2 linked regions of the Homo sapiens genome follow. The protein of the gene in region 2 purifies or fractionates together with the protein of the main gene of each other region. This does not show direct contact. Each region holds a gene or a part of one and is shown on either strand. Other genes may lie near its edges.

Region 1 (3,187 bases), on a different chromosome or scaffold from region 2:
ACAATATGATATGTAAAATATCTGATTATCAGATTAGATTAAGAATAATTTTTAAATGGCATAAACCAAAGATTATTTCATGCCCCTTTCCCACTAATAAAATGCAAATCATGTCACAAGTATTTTACAAATTACTATTTGAATATGCCAGTGTTCCAACAGGTCAACTTTATAATCTTTTTCTCTCCTCTGAGGCTCTAGTACACATATCACTTCTCTCATTAGCCAGGAGGTCATTTATGTTGCCTGGATTTGCTATTGTGCTTCTAATTAAGCTATTTCATTAATCACATAGTAACTGTTTCCTGCAATAAAAATCATGTGCTGCATAGGACTTCAGAAGTGCATCACTACACTGAATTTCAGAGCACTCCCTAATTTCTCTTCTTTTGCAAAAATACATTTACCTTTAAACTGTTAATGTGTGTGTTTATATATATATATAAAATTCATTTAAATAGTCAATCTGATCCAAAGTATATTTTTACTGAGAATATATCTGAAAAAATTTGAATTGAGATTAAATTTTTAAATGAAATATATTTACTTTTTTTAAAAAAAGGTGTTTTCAACTTTAAAATGCAGTTTAGAAGAATGAGGATATTGATAGAACTGTTAATGTGTTTATTGTGTGACGTCAATAGTAACAGGACATTTATGTTGAATGATGTTATGTTATAAAAATGCCATGGAGCAAGATAAAATTATATGTATAGTTATCACTAAATCAATAGGCAAAATGGACCAAGATGTTTTGTTCCAGGTCATTTCTACATGGATTCATTTATTATTCTGTGCAAAAAAAAAGAAAAAAAAGCCAAAGTACCTATCTATTACAAAATATGACTGCTGTCTACCCCATTTAAACAAAGAGGGAAATTAAGGGTAATATGTAAAGCTGAATGGCAATGTTGTGATTCACTGTGATAGTGCCATGGAAAGGATTACAGGAGTAATTCTGTCCTCTCATGCCCACGTAAATGGTGAAAGGGATCACTAGCAATTCCTATTTCCATGTATTTCCAAATAAGAGAAACTTGAATTTAAAATCAACTGAGATCCAAGGTTGGATAAAATCTCTGGATACATGAAATATGGTCAAACTCCATCACAACATATTGCAATAAAAACTGTTCAGGGTATTTTTTGTACTAGAATTTTGTAGATGGAAGGTAACTTTGGTAAGGGATCATCTTCTGAAGTTGGCCATAAAAGCCCATCATGCTGATAATCAGTTTGTTGTAATGGTCTTTGACCTGTAGGAGACATGCAGGAAATGGAAGTTGCATGCTTAGCTAGCATAAAACGATTCCTGAGCAACAGTAAAAAGCATTCCAAGCCTTCCCCATCACTTTATAGCAAAGAGAACAAAAAGATGACAGTGAGGAAGCCTCACCAAGAGAAACACAACATTTCCAACATGCAACAGGTTAATTAGGCGGTCGACACAGCTTCTATCTGTGGAAAATTCCAAAATGGACAAGAAATCTAGAATGATTTCTTATGCATCTTTGAATTCCCTAGTGGAATGCTACATACCGAATTAATAACACATTGCAAACTGGGCTACTATGGAGGGCTAAAAGTCTCTTTTTGTGTGTACAAATATTGCAAATTTTCTTCATTGCTGTGGTAGATATTTAACAAGAACATAAAATAACTCACCTGCAACGAAAGACTGTGCATTAAAAAAAACAAAAACTGAGCTTTCAAGTGAAATAAAATAAAACAAATCCAAGCAAGGCAAGCCAGTGTGGACATTTGGAAACATCTGTTAATGGGACACACATAGCAAGCTGTTGTTCTTAAAGTTAGCCACCACAACCATAGCGGGTCCCACAGCTAGCAATTAAAAAACATTGATCAATTACCAATTACAGAAGTAGATCAATACTATGCATCAGAAGTAAGCCTCTCTTTATCAGATGGCTGAGCATGGATCTCAGCCTTGTGATATGTGGCATCATAATGATCTTTCTTATTTCTCTTGAAGAAACCACACTACAAGGAAGCAAGGTATTTAGTCAATTTTACAGTTTTGTGTATAAGAGCCAAACAACAGAACATCTCAAATTTTAATCTGCCTTCTACTAGTGGCTTGTTTACAAACAGACCACTTTCAGTCAACCAACAATGAACAGCCACTGCATTGTTTCATTGTCATATTCAATACACCCTTCACCATACATCTCTGGTCAAATATTTATATGGATGACACTAGTCAGCTCATTGATTTTTCTCTTTGTAACAGAAATCTTGTGGACAAAAATCATTCTAATAGGGAAAACGTATATACATTGCTGATTGTAGCTTTGGGTAGTTTCTTCCTGCAGGAGAATATGAACTCCAAAAGAGGCAAAAGATTGACTTCGGCAGTTTATTGAGACAAAGGTTAGAAAATAAATTCTCTAAATAAAAGCACAAATCCAAATAAAATATAGATATACTATGGGTATTTTTCTGCCTTTTACAGTAAATTTTATGGAACAAATGCCATTTACTTGAGGCCTTTGGATCTGTGGGGTGAATCACAATACAAATTCGAATACACCATCATGAAAGAATGATTGCTGTCATTTTCCCAAACTCTGAGCACCATAAAACCCTTAAATGGTAGGGACCCAATGCTCCTCAGGTTAGGTCACTCTAAATGAGTATAAAAGTATAATTCCACTTTCTACTATAATTTCCTTCGTTCAGTGATAGAGAACTTTTCCTATTTACTTTTATCTAGTTCATAAGGCCATGGAACTGTCTTTTATAAAATTTAACCTGGTCAAATAAAATCTCCTGAAAAACTCTGATTCCTAGTCCAGCAACTCATGAAGGTAAAAGCCTAGATTCACTTTGTACAATATATGGGAGCTGCTGGCTCCGTGAGGCTATTCAGATTGAAATTAATTTAAATTACATTTAAAACTCTGTGCCTCAAGTGAACCAGCCATATTCCACGTGCCTAACCGCCACACATGACTAATGGCTACCATACTGGATGCTGCAGCTCCAGAACATTTCCATCAGTATAGAGTTTTGTTGGGCAGCTTTCAATAATATGTGCTAGTAAATAGGGTGGGAAGAAGAATAAACCAGGAGCCAAGAGGCCTGGTCCTGCCTCCAACTTGGCAACATTCTTTCCTTTTTTTGAGACAGAGTCTCACTCTGTTGCCCAGGCTGGAGTGCAGTGGCA
Region 2 (2,834 bases):
GACTTTAGAGATACACAATGGGAGCAAGAGGGAGAGTGAGGTCCTGTGAGCAATCTCACGGAAAACAGAAGGGCAGGATATGTCATCAGTGGCTCAGAGGCCTGGGGAAGAAACCTTGCTGCCCGTTAGAACATTAAGGAAACAGTTTCTGCCAGGTGCAGTGGCTCATGCCTGTAATCCCAGCACTCTGGGAGGCCGAGGCGGGCAGATCGCTTGAGGCCAGGAGTTTGAGACCAGCCTGGCTAACATGATAAAACACTGTCTCTACTAAAAATACAAAAATTAATTTGGTGTGGTGGTGCATGTCTGTAACCCCAACTACTCAGGGAGTCTGAGGCACGAGAATCACTTGAACACAGGAGGCAGAGGTTGCACTGTGCCAAGATCATGCCATTGCACTCTAGCCTGGGTAACAGAGCGAAACTGTCTCAAAAAAAAAAAAAAAGAAAAGTTTGTGAAATAGGGAGTATCCACTAGCTCCCTTCCCACTCCCAGGAGACTTTTTTGAACACTCTTAAGTATAGTTTATTGAATACAATATAAATACTTCACATTTGGCAGTCTATACACAGCAGCTCCAGCCTGGCTTCCCTGGACTTTTGCGCTCTTGCCAACACCACCCTGACCTCAGCTTGGAGACAGCAGTCTCCTTCCTTCCCCTCGTTCCCCCAGCCAGCTAGTTACCAAGTTCTGTCACCACTTCTCCCTCTCCATGCATCCTACTTCAAAATTAGCTTTCCCTGCTCACCTGTGTTCATCGTTCTGTCTGAATGATAAAGAGACAGCCATCTTTTTTTTTTTTTTTTTTTGAGACAGAGTCTCGCCCTTGTTGCCCAGGCTGGAGTGCAGTGGTGCGATCTTGGCTCACTGCAACCTCTGCCTCCCAGGTTCAAGTGATTCTCCTGCCTCAGCCTCCTGAGTAGGTGGGATTACAGGTGTGCGCCATTACGCCCAGCTCTTTTTTTTTTTTTAAACGGGGTCTTGCTAATGTTGCTGCTCATGTTAAACTTGAATTCCTGGGCTCTAGAGATCCTCTCACCTCAGCTTCCTGAGTAGCTGGGACTACAGGTATATACCACTGCACCCAGCTGTAAGACCAAGCCACCTTTAATGAACAAATATCCTTCCTGTTCTGCTAAAGTACAGAAACTATTTCTACTAGGAGCCAGTGGGAACCTAGGGGTTATCTGGAGCTTAGCTCCAGCTAAGTGACAGGAAAGGGAGGGTCTAGACCAGTCCCTGCTGATGTGCTGCTCCACATTGTCAAAGCCCAAGGAGAGATGAGGCCTCTGGGACCAGAGAGGGCCCTGGTGCTAAGGTGGTGGTGGAACAGAACCCAGCAGCCTTCAGCTGGATACTGATAGCTTCATCTCCTGAAGGCTTTCAGATGACAGCAGCTGGACCCACCGTTTTACCTACCTGTGTCCACTCACATGGGCTCAGGATGTGGACTTAGAGGCTCTCCTTTAATAAATATCTTATACAATGATTCTGTCTTTGGCTCTGTTTTTCCTGTGCAGGCCCGCAGAGTGCCAGGTGCCTCTCTCCCCTCCTCTACTATTTTGGCTCCTGCTATGAAAAGAATAGTAAAACTACTTTATAGAGAGGAGACGCTTTAGCTGGAGAACAACTCTGTCTTCCTAGGAACCAGGGACAGTCAATAACCAGAAAGGACAGAGGGCTAAAGGGCCTTGGCTAATCTTACTATCAGATGGGTGGCAGACAAGTTACCAGAGAGAAGCAGACTATCACTTTTTCACATGGTCAAAGCAGATAGGCACAGAAAAGCATCTATGATCCCCTGAAAGTCCTTGGAGATGGCACTGGATATCCCCAAATTTTCTTATCAGAGGGTAGAAAACTTGAAAAGAGTCTTTTTTTGAGACAAAGTTTTGCTCTTTTGCCCAGGCTGGAGTGCAGTTGCACGATCTTGGCTCACTGCAACCTCTGCCTTCCGGTTTCAAGTGATTCTGCTGCCTCAGCCTCCCGAGTAGCTGGGATTACAGGCGCATGCCACCACACCCAGCTAATTTTTGTATTTTTAGTAGAGACAAGGTTTCACCATGTTGACCAGGCTGGTCACGAACTCCTGCCCTCAAGTGATCCACCCACTTCGGCCTCCCAAAGTACTGGGATTACAGGTGTAAGCCACTGCGCCCAGCCGGCAGGTCCATGTTTTAAAAGCCAGATAAAACTACAGCTCTCTCCACATTCAGACGGGACAGCCAGCCCTGATGGAGCTGGGGTGAAATGCCCCCTTCAGACTGACCAGGTGCTCAGTACAGAAAGGCCAGGTGCCACTCCAGGGAATCTAAGGTGCCTCAAGAAAATGCCAGGTCAGATTTTCCTCAAGAAAGACCAGCCAGGCACAGGCTCACATCTGTAATCCAAGTGCTTTGGGAGGCCAAGAAGGGAGGATCGCTTGAGCCCAGGAGTTCAAAACCAACCTGGACCAACAGTGAGACTCTGTCTCTACCAAAAAAAAAACAAAAAACTAACCAAGGGCAGAATCTGATGGCAGCCCCTGAAAGAATCTGGGGGAAACTGGAGGATATGAGTGTGTGTGTATGAAGTTAACTTCAAAGCAAGCTTCCTGTGCTGAGGGGGTGGGAGGTAAGGGTGTGATGAGGCAGGGCTTCTCCTTTGGCAAAGCCTCTGTAGTCCTTCCTTAGTCACCAGGGAGTTGTGGGAGATATAGACCAGGGTTGCAGGTGCCTGGAGTACAGGGACAGCAGACAGGTCATGGTGGGTGAGGGGTCAGCTGGTGGGGCACAGATGCGTTTCCTCGGCAGTCCACATATTCATAGCTCTGAAAGACCAGCTGCTCTGAATGG

Evidence for each region.
Region 1: the proteins of TMEM106A (region 2) and ITGA6 purify together in Homo sapiens (co-immunoprecipitation; 2 studies listed by BioGRID and IntAct, with this or other methods). This does not show direct contact.

What each region holds. Positions count from the first base shown.
Region 1 is NC_000002.12:172,500,586-172,503,772, reverse strand, and holds part of ITGA6 (integrin alpha-6 isoform b preproprotein), read right to left. Parts: intron 2,002-3,187; coding exon 1,894-2,001; 3' UTR 1,872-1,893; intron 466-1,871; exon of another isoform or gene 1-465. UniProt on the Homo sapiens protein: Integrin alpha-6/beta-1 (ITGA6:ITGB1) is a receptor for laminin on platelets. Integrin alpha-6/beta-1 (ITGA6:ITGB1) is present in oocytes and is involved in sperm-egg fusion.
Region 2 is NC_000017.11:43,217,708-43,220,541, reverse strand, and holds the end of TMEM106A (transmembrane protein 106A), read right to left. Parts: coding exon 2,741-2,834; 3' UTR 501-2,740; downstream 1-500. UniProt on the Homo sapiens protein: Activates macrophages and polarizes them into M1-like macrophages through the activation of the MAPK and NF-kappaB signaling pathway.